Homo sapiens: one gene and its partner. The protein of the gene in region 1 interacts with the protein of each later gene in a pairwise test. Each region holds a gene or a part of one and is shown in the gene's direction. Other genes may lie near its edges. The genes, in order: EGLN2 and ETS2.

What was found.
Region 2: the proteins of EGLN2 (region 1) and ETS2 interact in a two-hybrid assay, tested with the Homo sapiens proteins (one large-scale study listed by BioGRID and IntAct).

Annotation. Positions count from the first base shown.
Region 1 is NC_000019.10:40,801,905-40,805,586, forward strand, and holds part of EGLN2 (prolyl hydroxylase EGLN2), read left to right. Parts: intron 1-3,682. UniProt on the Homo sapiens protein: Prolyl hydroxylase that mediates hydroxylation of proline residues in target proteins, such as ATF4, IKBKB, CEP192 and HIF1A. Target proteins are preferentially recognized via a LXXLAP motif.
Region 2 is NC_000021.9:38,815,929-38,819,738, forward strand, and holds part of ETS2 (protein C-ets-2), read left to right. Parts: intron 1-1,079; coding exon 1,080-1,163; intron 1,164-2,496; coding exon 2,497-2,718; intron 2,719-3,574; coding exon 3,575-3,810. UniProt on the Homo sapiens protein: Transcription factor activating transcription. Binds specifically the DNA GGAA/T core motif (Ets-binding site or EBS) in gene promoters and stimulates transcription.

The DNA of each region.
Region 1 (3,682 bases):
GTTCTTGACTTTGCCAGGAACCCTCTTAAACTCATGAGAGCTGCTGACATTCACAGCGTGGACCTTGGTGGGGTTCATGGCCTCCTGGTGTCAGTCTGTGGCCCCAGACCAAGCACGGGGATGTAGATAGGCACACAGTTCACCTGGCCGTTCTCTGTTGCTGTCTGTCCCTGTCCACATCCTTCCCTGTGCTCCTGTCGTCCATCCCTGTTTGCTGGCCCATGTTTCTAGTCCATCCATCCTGTCTCCAAGGCAGGAGAAGCAGAAGGGGGAGGGTGGCTGTGATGAGTGAGCCCTGGGCTGAGGGAAGGAAAGGGGTGCTGCCCGCTGGGCCGAGTGCTTGGCCCTGGACTGCATTGTGCCCTGGGTCCCCACTGTGGCATCTGCATCGAGGACAGTCTCCTGGGGGTGGTACTGGGTGGCTGCCTGTTGGCCCAGGTGGAGCTCATCCCCATGTCTCCCACCCTTCACTGTCCCAGTCCCTGCCCTCCATTCCCCCTGTCCTGTGTGTCACTTCCTCCCTACCCATGTCTGTCTCTTCCTCTGCCTTTATGTGTTTGTTCTTAGTCCCTTTTTCTTTTTGCTTTAGAACAATAGTTCTTAATGGTATTTTGGAGCCTGGGTCTTTTTGAGAATCTGTCAGAGGCCACAGATCCTCTCTTAAGACAAATGCTCATTTGCTTGGAGTTTCCGGGCAGTTGTCAAGGCCTCATGGCCTCCAGCTGCCTGTTCAGGAACCTGGGGTCAGGAGCCCAGCACAGGACAGTGGTCCATAGGGCCTTTCCGGGCTGCTGACAGGATCATTGTCTTCATGGGTGGTGTGGGGGCCTGGCCTTGAGTCCAAGGCTTGGTGTCCTTTGGACAAGGCCCTGTGGGGAGTGCCCACTGCTCAACACAGTGATGCCTGGCTGGCTGATGGCACGGGCAGTGTTGTGCCCTGCAGGCGTGAGGCTGAGCTCCTGATGTCCTCTGCCTCCTCCTGCAGATCCCATCTTGGGTTCTGCTTCTGTGTGGCTTTCCTCTCAGGCTGGAGCTGGCTCAGGGACCAGGGCTCCCCCGGGGCCAAGGCCTGTTTCCTCCCCACCCCAGCTGGAACTTGTTCTACTTCCCTCTCCCTCCCGTTACTTGATAGCTGAGCCAGAGCCGGCCCCTCCCTGGGCTTGGCTCCTGTGCGGGCGGGATCAGTGGCCTCCCTGGCTCAGCATCTTCACCCCAGGTTGGCTGTCGTCCTCGTCAGGGGGAGACCAGAAGGGCTGAGTGGCCCAGATGGGACACTGCTCTGAGCCTCAATTTGCTGATCCACGGAATACGAAAACCAGGTTACATCCCCAGTGAGTCTGGCAGTTTGGGGAGGGGAGAGTAGGAGAAGATCTCTTGTGTTTTGGTGCCTCTGGTGCCCACTTTCTATGTGGTTGGGGACAGGGCCCCAGCGAGGATTGGGGAAGGGGCGTGTTTGGACTTTTTTAGCCCTAGGTGACCTTGATTGTCCTAGGGAAGTAAGGACAGGCCAGGCTGGACTGAGAACATAGGGGAGGAGCCCTCCCCTCCCCAGTGAGACAGCAACTCCAGGCTTTCCCGCTTTTAGATGGGCCCCATCTGGACTCTCTCCTGTACTCCAGAGTAAGGCTGTGGGGTGCTCAGGTGGGCTGCAGCAGTTGCCGTGGGGACATGGATCACCAGTGTGGCTAGAGCCAGTAGAAACGTGCTTCTTAGTCGTTCTGAGTGGAGCTCCTGTGTCATCCTTCCTTCCCCCAACTCCCTGGTTGGGGACAGGTGCTCCGTTGACCTGTAGGTGGGAGAGAGTTGACTCCCACTGGCAGCAAGGGCTACCAGAGGGGACCCCAGGGAGAGTCCAGCTTGCTTGGTTTGCTCCTTGAAGAGCAGCTTGGAGGTGGGACAGTCACAGGCTTCTGACTGGGGTGTGTGTGTAGTGGGGGTGGGGCTCTTGGCAGGCAGATTGTCACCAATAGCCTTTAAGTCTTTGGTCTCCTGGCCCTGGTCCCACCTGTCCCTCCCCTAGGTGGGAGGGGTGGAGAGCAAGTTTCCTGAGGCCTTCCCCTGTGAGGGCAGGAAGTAGATACTTTCCTTGGGGCCAGAGGATGCTTTCACCCCCAAGGTGTGTATATGTGGGGGAAGGGTGGGGCCCTAAAGAGCAGGTTCCTGTTTCTGTGTGAGTCCCATGTGCTTGGTGGGAGGCGCTGTGTGAGAATGTACAGGGCAGGAGGAAACATAGCAGGGCTGGGGTGCAGAGGAGGCCCAGAGCAGTGCACTCCAGTCTGCAGGTACTGCACTGGGCACTGGGGAGACCAACCTGGCCCCAGGGGCTTCCCTGTGGCTGCCTTCCAGGGCAGTACTAGGTAAACAGGTGCCTGTGCTGATGCCATGTTGCTAGGAGTGGAACGGACAATCAGCCGGAGTACTCAAGGTGACCCTTGGTCTCTGAATCCTGAATAACAAAGAGGGTCAGAAGGAAGAGTGTCCCAGGCCAGTGCTGAGGCCTTGTGGTGGCGATGAGCTCAGCCTGTTGAGGCATGGAGCAGAGTGATGGGAGAGGCACATGAGGTTGGGGGCCTTTGAGGCTGTGGTTGGGAATTTGTATTTTCTCAGGATGGAGTGAAGACCTGGAGAGGAGGGGCTCTGGCTGCTGTGTGGGGATGAATTGTGGGAAGAGGGTGCAGCACTGGACCCCTTCCCTGCCACCCATCCACGTGCATCATCAGTGTAATCTCTGATTGGATTCCTAATTGGGGAGGTCTTGCCCATCTCTAGTCAGTAACTCACTGTTTCTAAGCCTCCTGGACCATGGCCCAATTCTTCTCCCAGTGAGGTGGTTGCTCAGAGTGCCGACCCTTCCATAGGGAGTGAGCAGTGCAAAGAAGGTGCCCCCTCCTGAACCTTGAAGTGTAGCCATTAGGGTTTTCCCTGGGGGGCCTTCTCACTAATTGTACTCTGGTGCTGCCAGAGAGAAGGTTGTCAGCTTCCCACTGCTAGGTGGCAGTAGATGGTGGCAGCCCTCTCTTTCCAGGGCAAGGTCTGGTGGATGAGGTGCACATGGTTAATGCAGAGCAGCTTAACATCCACCACAGAGGGTGAGCCCTGGGATAATGTGTTGGGAGGCGTCCTGGGGAGGGTGAGGATTGAAGCAGCCCAGTCTGCTGTGGCGTGCGTGCTTGGCAAGCATCCTGTTGTGGCAGTGGCCACTGATGTTTGATCGTGAATGTTTATCTTGGGACTGTCTTGCTGGGCCGGGCCCATAGGTGTAGCTGAGCATTCGTGGGGAATGGACGCCAGCAGAGTTGTACCAGGGCAGAGAGGTCAGGGCAGAGAGGTCAAGACAGATGGTCCGGGCTGGGGAGAAGTTGAAGGGTCCTTGTGCCAGTCCTCCCCTTTTTGTGTGCTACCTCATCTTGCCACTGCAGTGACTTTGGGCAGAGGGTGGGACAGGGACCTTTTAAAATTTTTAAATGGCATTTCAGCCTGTGCTCCAGTTCTCCATGTGGCAGGCACTGTGCTGGCTGTCTTCCCAGACACTTGTTATCTTGTTCACTTGTTCCACAACAACCTGTGAAATAGCTGTGAGCTCCATTGGATCCATGGATGAGGAACCTGAGACCAGGAAGTCACCTGCCTGATGCCACAGCTCATGTGGCAGCACTGAGACTTGAACCAGGGAATTGTGTCT
Region 2 (3,810 bases), on another chromosome or scaffold:
CTGTTGAAAGGAAGGAAGGAAGGAAGGAAGGAAGGAAGGAAGGAAGGAAGGAAGGAAGGAAGGAAGGAAGGAAGGAAGGAAGGAGGGAGGGAGGGAAGGAAGGAAGGAAAGAAAGAGGGAGGGAGGGAGGGGAGGGAGGGAGGGAGGGAGGGAGGGGAGGGAGGGAGGGAGGGAGGGAGGGAAAGAAATAAAATACAGTAGGGATTATTTAGGTTAAAAAAATATAAGAAAATAAGCATGTTTATAGAATTCAGGGAACTAGTCCTCACCTGACTGATTTTAAACACACTGAATTTCAGCATCAACTGTAGACTCAGAATCTCGAAAACACCTAGGATTCAACAGCTAACTTTTTTTAGTTACGGCGTCTGAGGGCCAGGGAAACTCATTTTTAAAGACCCTCATTTCTTCTGAACTTGGACAGGGCTTTTCTACCAAGTTTCTGGTGATCTGTTTATTGGCAAATTGGGCCTGTTTTACCATTCCTCGGGCCTGTGAGTTTGTGTGTATTTGGGTTTCCGGGTGGACGTGCACTTTGTAATATATTCGTAGTAAGTATGCATACACAGTGCACAAACCTTTTCCCTTTCAAAGTTCTTGGGCACATGTGTTCCCCATCCCAGACTCCCACAGCCCTGGAGACTTCCCACACCCTGGGGAAGCGTGCAGGTTTGGAAGCAGTGGAACTGTAAGCTTCACGGGGGCAGACACCATCCATTTTATTAATTTCCTGTATGCAGCCTCTGGTACAGATGGCATTTCATAAATACTTAACTGTTTCTTGAATGCATGAATGAATTCAATACACCATCTGGACCTTTTGCGATAGAAAATTTAGTGTTGCCAATGACATCATTCATTTTGGAAAATTTATTTTAGTAATTGGAAAAATGGGTTGCTTTCTCTCGTTTTTTGAAAAAGACAGGCAGGGACGTGGAGCACCATGAGATTAAATGTGAAGCACTCCGTGCATCTCATCATTCTAAAATTATCATCTCACAGGAATTCAGAAAGTCAATTTGTTCTGTGTAGTTTTCACCTACATCTGCCATCTTACGTCTCCTGTGTCTGCTTTTCAGAAAACCAAGAAAAGACAGAAGATCAATATGAAGAAAATTCACACCTCACCTCCGTTCCTCATTGGATTAACAGCAATACATTAGGTCAGTCCGATTGATTCTGCCCTTAAGAACTTTGTCTTCAGTCTTCCCAGTAGACTTGGAATCTCTCTACTGTAGGCTCCTAAGGGGCCACCTAGACCTGTGTGTCTCTTATGGTGGCCACACGTGGGTGTTGAGCTATAAGCCATTGAAATGTGACTGGTCCACATCGAGATGTGTAGGAAGAGTATAGTCATGCACACCAGATTTGGAAGTCTTAGTATGAAACAGAGAATATAAAATGTCTCCCTGATAATTTTTAATGTATTGATTACATATTGAAATGATAATTGCTATATGAGGCCAAGTAAAATAAGAAAATTAACTTCACCTGTTTCTTTTTGCTTTTTTAATATGGCCACTAGAACTTTCGCAGTTGCTTAAGTGGCTCACACGATCTTCCATAGGTCAGCACTGTTAGTGCTAGTCCAGGCAATTCTTAGAGCAAGGAGCAGAACGAAGTGAGCTGATTACCGCAGTCACCAGTAATGTTGGTTTAGTGTAGCAAACAAGAGGCGGCAGGCACAGAGTGCGTGAAAAGCAATTTGTAAACTGGCTCTGAACTTGGGAGCTTAAAGAGCTGTCATGGAATCTGGGTCCTTTCTTCTGGTTGCTGATACTGGGGAGGGCACAGGGTCTGGCCAGGCCAGCGAGGGAGGGGTCCTCGGAACAGCAGGCTTGGGTGGTGTTGGTCCGGCCCAGTGTTTTCTCTCTGGCCCCAGCTCCACCATTCAGACCCGGTGAAGCCCACCTCTCTGCCCCACTGGGGGCTTCCTGCTCAGGAGGTCTTTCTGAACATGACAGTGGGACACCCTGTGCCTGCCTGAACCTGAATCAGAGTCAGAGAGCTTCCTTCCCTCTCCAGAAAATAAATTATTCTGCAATGAACAGAGACAGGAGCGGTGTGATGAAGGAGCAGAAAGCAGAGTGGGCTGTGCCTCAGCACACAGGGTTCATGGCCTGGTTCTGCCCTTATGAATCACACAGTACATGACACGTCACTTGGTCTGTCTGAGCCTTACTCTCCTCGGAAGCTAAAAGAGCCAGTGAGCCCTGTCTTCCTGAAGGTCCCATGAAAGCACTAGGGTTGTAGAAATAGGAACATTGAGTCCTGCCTGCAGAGGCTGCAGTCATTTTGGCAGAGGGCTGCTGGTTGAGAAGCTGAATGGTTTGAGAAGAAGGCCTGGTGACAGACCCCCACCAAAGCCCGGGTCTCCACTGAGGTTCTGCAGAGGGCTGGAGTGTGCGGAGTGCTCACCTGTCATTTGCTCGTAGGGGTTAGTTACTGGGGTAACACTGACTTTAAGAGCTCTGCCGTCCGATTGTTCTGTTCCAGGTTTTGGCACAGAGCAGGCGCCCTATGGAATGCAGACACAGAATTACCCCAAAGGCGGCCTCCTGGACAGCATGTGTCCGGCCTCCACACCCAGCGTACTCAGCTCTGAGCAGGAGTTTCAGATGTTCCCCAAGTCTCGGCTCAGCTCCGTCAGCGTCACCTACTGCTCTGTCAGTCAGGACTTCCCAGGCAGCAACTTGAATTTGCTCACCAACAATTCTGGTAAGATTGGAAGCATCTTTCAACAAGGCTGTTGCTTTGATTCTGAGAACCCCAGAGCCATAATGAACCTCTTAATAAATACTTCCTGGATTCAGCCATTAGAGAAGGGGGTCAAAGCCCATGTTCTAAGTGGATTTCCAACAAGCATACCCCTAATATGTTTCAGGCACTGGCCCAGGTACTGCAGGCATTGAGTAAACAAAACAGTCCCTGCTCTTACAGCCAGATTTCTCCACACTTTGGGATATTTATGGAGGCGATGCAGGAATGTGACATTTCTTCTTATGGAGATGTAACATAAATACAGTGCACAAGTCTCAGGTCATGTGGCTGGTTGGATTTGTGTATGTATGTATACCCATGTAATAACCATCCAGATGGAGATAGAGAAGTTTCCAGTAGCCTGGAAGATTCCTTCGTACCCCTTCCCATCAATAATGTCCCCCCGACAGAAGGGAACGATTCTGACTTTTATCATTACGGATTAGGTTTTGATTTTCTTGAACTTTACATAGATGGAATCATAAGGCATGTTTTCTTTTGTGTTTGTCTTTTACTCATCATGTCTGGGATTCATGCATGTTGTTGGATGTAGCAGCCATGTGTTCTTTTTCATCGCTGTATAGTATTCCATTATAAGAATTTTATTCATTCTACTGTTGATGGAAGATAGGATTTGTGTAGTATAGTTACCCTAAGGAATAAGCACCTGAGTAGAGAGCATTTTGAGAAGTCTGAGTGGTTCTACACCAGCAGGTGCATGATTGCACTGGTAGTGGTTGGTGATGCTATGGTCGTGCCCAAGACCAACTGTGTCCTGGAGGAATCAAAGTATGTGTTTGGTTGTCTTTGCCAGGGACTCCCAAAGACCACGACTCCCCTGAGAACGGTGCGGACAGCTTCGAGAGCTCAGACTCCCTCCTCCAGTCCTGGAACAGCCAGTCGTCCTTGCTGGATGTGCAACGGGTTCCTTCCTTCGAGAGCTTCGAAGATGACTGCAGCCAGTCTCTCTGCCTCAATAAGCCAACCATGTCTTTCAAGGATTACATCCAAGAGAGGAGTGACCCAGTGGAGCAAGGCAAACCAGTTATA